Linked DNA regions of Homo sapiens: region 2 is linked to region 1. Evidence: fine-mapped expression QTL. Tissue or cell type: iPS cells. Region 1 holds a variant in brackets; the other region holds the start of a gene. All regions are shown on one strand. Distances are between the middles of the regions.

Region 1 (2,764 bases):
AGGATGTGGAAAAATTGGAACCCTCCTCATACACAGCTGGTGGGAATGTAAAATGTTACGGCAGCTTTTTAGCTGGAAAATAGTCCGGTAGTATTACCATATGGCCCAGCACTTCCACTCCTAGGTGTATAGCCAAGATAAATGAAAACCTATGTCCACACAAAAACATGTGCATGAATGTTCACAGCAGCATTATCCAGAATAGCCAAAAAGTAGAAATAACCCAAATGTCCATCAACTGATAAATGGATAAATAAAATACAGTGTGCCTGTAGAATGGAATATTACCCAGCAACAGAAAGAAATGAAGTACCGATACATGCCATGACATGGATGAACCTTAAAAATATTATGCTAAGTTAAAGAAGCCAGACCACATATTGTATGATTCCATTTATGTAAAATGACCAGAATCAGCAAACACAGAGACAGAAAGTAGATTCTTGTTGCCTATGGTTGAGGGAGTTGAGAGGAAACGGGGTGATGAAAATGTTCTAAAATTGACTGTGGTGATGGTTGCAAAACAGCGAATATACTAACAACCACTGAACTGTATCCCATGTGAATTATATCTCATAAAACTGCGGTGCATTTTTTTAAGTTTTTTACAACTTAAACCCTTTACCTAATTTTTACTAGTCTTCATTTCACAATGGAAAAAATGCTTTGTTTAAATTTAAAATCAGGAATCCAAGCACTTTCATGCTCATATCCAAAAAATGTTAACTTTCTAGAAACTTTTAAATAAATTAAACTCTTTTAACTGATAGCTTTGCAGAATTACACGGTTCTTCACTGAAATTTCAAAATACCTTATAATGTGCTGGTGAATGTGCTGGTCGGAGTGTTAGCTCCATTTTCTTTCTTTCCATTCTAGCTATGCAGTTCTACAGAGTCATTACTGTGTACTGTAGTCAGGAAATACAAATGAAGTAATGTCTTTGCTGTGGACAGCTTCAACTCTAAAGAGCTCGAACATATTAAAAAATCAGACATGCATGAAATGCTAAACTGATAAATGGCCATCACAAATCTGCACACATCAAATTTTCAATATGCTAAAGATCTATAACCTGAAGAATTATTTGAAGTTTGGAGAGGCTTCTCTTTACATGTGTGCCATAAGGTCTTGTTTTTCAAAGTCTGGTCCATGGACCAGCAGCATCAGCATCTTCTGGGAGCTTGTTAGAAATGCATATTCTGCCAGGTGCATTGGCTCAAGCTTATAATCCCAGCACTTTGGGAGGCTGAGGTGGGTGTATTACTTGAGCTCAGGAGTTTGAGACCAGCCTGGGGAACATGGGGAAACTCCATCTCTACAACAAAATACAAAAATTAGCCAGCATGGTGGCATTTGCCTGTAGTCCCAGCTACTTGGGAGGCTGAGGCAGGAAAATCACTTAAGCCCAGGAGGCAAAGGTTGCCGTAGCTGAGATCGCACCACTGCACTCCAGCCTGGGTGACAAAGTGAGACCTTGTCTCAAAAAAAAAAAAAAAAA[AG/G]AAAGAAAGAAAGAAAAAGAAATGCACATTCTAAGGCCCCACCCACCCTAGACCTACTCAACCATAATCATCATTTTAACAGGATCCCTAGGAGATGTGTCTGCACATTAAAATTTGAGGAGCACTGCCCTAAGACATTCTCTTTTGTTTTTCTCTTCATTAAGACAGCTCTGACTTGCACTAGACTAATATTTTAAAAGCCTGACATACATACAGTTCTGGTCCTGGGCCAGCTTGTCCTCAGATCCATTCTTTGTCCTTCTGCTCCAGTCCAAGTTGTGGAGGAGGTGACCCCAGCAAGGCCAGGGTTCCCAGGCAGGAGGGGAACAGTACATCCGCAGCAGCAGCTGTGCCCTTGCAAGGCTCCAGCCACTGCCAGATGGACCCCTTGTGACCCCAGTTTTTGGTGGGTGACAGCTGTCCCTGGAGTCTGAAATGCCATCTCCTTCCTTCACCCTCCAACTTAGGGGTGGCAGCAGTTTCCTGCTTGTTGCCTCATCTCCGGCTTGCCTCATTGCAGCCTGCATTCTCAGTTCTCACATCACCTGTGTGACCACTCCCCTAGATTACATTCCTTCTGTTCCAAATACTTAAGGTGAGTTCTGTTTTTCTTTTTAGACTCAGACTGCTACCCCATACCATTTTTGATGTTTCTATTATGTACCATAGATACCAGAGGAATTTTGTGAATGGCTTATCTGCTGGAAAAAAAAAAAATGGAGCTATTACATACAGTCAACCTCGCATTCCCACATTCTGACAATCTCTTAACAACTCAGAAGAAAAATCAGCCTTAAGCTATCTGTACAGCAGATGTGACTGTATTCAGAAACTCTAAGTCCTCGGGGTGTATTTTTAACAGTCTACCCATCACTCCTCCTCAACCAGAACAGCTGGTATAGCAGCTATTGTTTTAGGAGAAAAAAGAAGGAAAGCAAAAACACCTCCTAACCAACAAAATTCTAAACACTGGAATCTCCCAGGAATCAAATCTCTCTCAACACAATCTTGATCTTAATCAACCTTGTAAATCACATGATCTACCCCACACTGGTCAGTACCTTGCCTGGGCAACAGGAGAAAGCAACTCCTATCAGTATCATTTAGGGCTATGTGGAGATCTTCCCAAAAGCACATCTGATCCATCACCCCCATACTTTGAACAATCCTCTGTGGCCACCTCTTGCCCAAGGCCAAAAAGCAAACCCCTCAAAGGACCACCCCTTCGAAATTCAGCCCTAACCAACCCTTCCAACTAATAAGT
Region 2 (2,609 bases), 210 kb before region 1:
GTTATATAACTATAATCTTATATAAGGTTATATAACTATAATCTTATATAAGGTTATATAACTATAATCTTATATAAGGTTATATAACTATAATCTTATATAAGGTTATATAACTATAATCTTATATAAGGTTATATAACTATAATCTTATATAAGGTTATATAACTATAATCTTATATAAGGTTATATAACTATAATCTTATATAAGGTTATATAACTATAATCTTATATAAGGTTATATAACTATAATCTTATATAAGGTTATATAACTATAATCTTATATAAGGTTATATAACTATAATCTTATATAAGGTTATATAACTATAATCTTATATAAGGTTATATAACTATAATCTTATATAAGGTTATATAACTATAATCTTATATAAGGTTATATAACTATAATCTTATATAAGGTTATATAACTATAATCTTATATAAGGTTATATAACTATAATCTTATATAAGGTTATATAACTAATCTTATATAAGGTTATATAACTATAATCTTATATAAGGTTATATAACTATAATCTTATATAAGGTTATATAACTATAATCTTATATAAGGTTATATAGCTATAATCTTATATAAGGTTATATAGCTATAATCTTATATAAGGTTATATAGCTATAATCTTATATAAGGTTATATAGCTATAATCTTATATAAGGTTATATAGCTATAATCTTATATAAGGTTATATAGCTATAATCTTATATAAGGTTATATAGCTATAATCTTATATAAGGTTATATAGCTATAATCTTATATAAGGTTATATAGCTATAATCTTATATAAGGTTATATAGCTATAATCTTATATAAGGTTATATAGCTATAATCTTATATAAGGTTATATAGCTATAATCTTATATAAGGTTATATAGCTATAATCTTATATAAGGTTATATAGCTATAATCTTATATAAGGTTATATAGCTATAATATAGCTATACTCTTATATAAGATCATATAGCTATACTCTTATATAAGATCATATAGCTATACTCTTATATAAGATCATATAGCTATAATCTTATATAAGATCATATAGCTATAATCTTATATAAGATCATATAGCTATAATCTTATATAAGATCATATAGCTATAATCTTATATAAGATCATATAGCTATAATCTTATATAAGATCATATAGCTATAATCTTATATAAGGATCATATAGCTATAATCTTATATAAGATCATATAGCTATAATCTTATATAAGATCATATAGCTATAATCTTATATAAGATCATATAGCTATAATCTTATAAATGTGAACGAATGAGTGGTCCGCTGGCCGAGTGGACCCGCGAACTCACCAGCGGACTTGTAAGCGAGCTCACCTTGCCCGCTCCCGCTCCCGCTCCAGTTCCCAAACTCTTGGAGCAGAAGAGTTACATTTCCCATAAGGCCCCGTGCGAGGGGCCGGCGCTCCAGCGGGGCATCCTGGGAAGCATAGTCCACGATCCATAAATCACTTTCTGGAGACCCGCCCTCGCCAACATGGCGGCGCCCAGTTGGGGCGGGTTCGTTCGCTTCGCGTTTTGGCCAGGGCGGGGGTCTGGGCTTTAGGCAGTAAGTGCGGCTGGCGCCCGGGGATCCTGGGAGGGACGTGGGAAGCGTAGGGACAGTGTTGGTGGCCCAGTCTGAGGAGGGCGAGGCGAGAGGCTGCCCAGGCCTGCCTGAGGACGCGGCGCTCTCCTGGAGTCGGGGCAGTGGTTTCGGGCCACGGGGACCTCTGCCTTTTTGCGCCCCTGGGCCTGTGGTGGCTTGGAGGGCCTCGGCCGGCCGTAGGAGTTGGGAATTCAGGAATGCAGACAACGAGCTCGAGGCTAGACTCTCGAGTTGTGTTTTTTTAGTTTTCTTCTGAGGAAAAGAAAAATAATTGCATTTCAGCGCTTCCTGTCATTTGGTACCTATGCTAGGCGCTTTACGTTTCTCATCTCCAAGTGACCCTCCGCCACACTCGATGTGAAACCTTGGGGAAGTCACCTAGGCCCCCAGGGCTAACGATGGGATTAGTGGATACATACTGGAAGGCCTTTAGGCTTGATAATTTTAGTGGCAGTCTTCCCCGCCCTCCGCTCCCCTTCCCCCCTCCCTCCCCAGTGAACTGACTTCCGGCCCAACAGCTTCGGGACTGTACTAAAGTGCTCTAAAAAAAGTTAACTTGATCTGTTTAATTTAAATGTCATAATCTGGTATATAGTACTGAAGGGTGTGACAAGCAGAGATTTTAGAGAGTTGATTCTCAGAATTTAGGGTTGGCTTTGCCGTCCCAGCAGTGGATTAGTTGTGGCAACAGGTTTTCTTTTTTAAAAAAATTAGTGATGTGAACGTGCCTTTTTAAAAACAGCTGTTACTTATTGTGGGCCAAACCCTGTACACTAACTGCCCTTCTTTCGTTATGTCATTGGATAGTTTAAATGACCCGAAGAGACAGATGGTATCCTATTTTACACATAAGAAAACAGATTAACATATCCAGGGTCACACAGGTAGTTAGGGTCCTGATAGGGATGAAAAAAATCTAGATCTTGCTGCCTCCAAAACCCAACTACTGTACATAGAAACAGTAGTCCTGTGTTCTAAGAAACAA

What was found. PIP is the estimated chance that this variant, and not a neighbour inherited with it, causes the effect.
Region 2: USP40 starts here. The variant in region 1 is fine-mapped to the expression of USP40 in iPS cells (HipSci, PIP 0.91).

The regions. Positions count from the first base shown.
Region 1 is chr2:233,356,274-233,359,037 of GRCh38, reverse strand. All of the region lies in intron 1 of DGKD (diacylglycerol kinase delta), which reads right to left. Among named protein-coding and RNA genes, the nearest start is that of DGKD, 3.2 kb to the right of the region's middle. The variant AG/G (reference allele first, on the strand shown) is at 1,500.
Region 2 is chr2:233,565,660-233,568,268 of GRCh38, reverse strand. It overlaps USP40 (ubiquitin specific peptidase 40), which reads left to right and starts at 1,487. Exons shown (of 32, transcript NM_001365479.2): 1 at 1,487-1,585.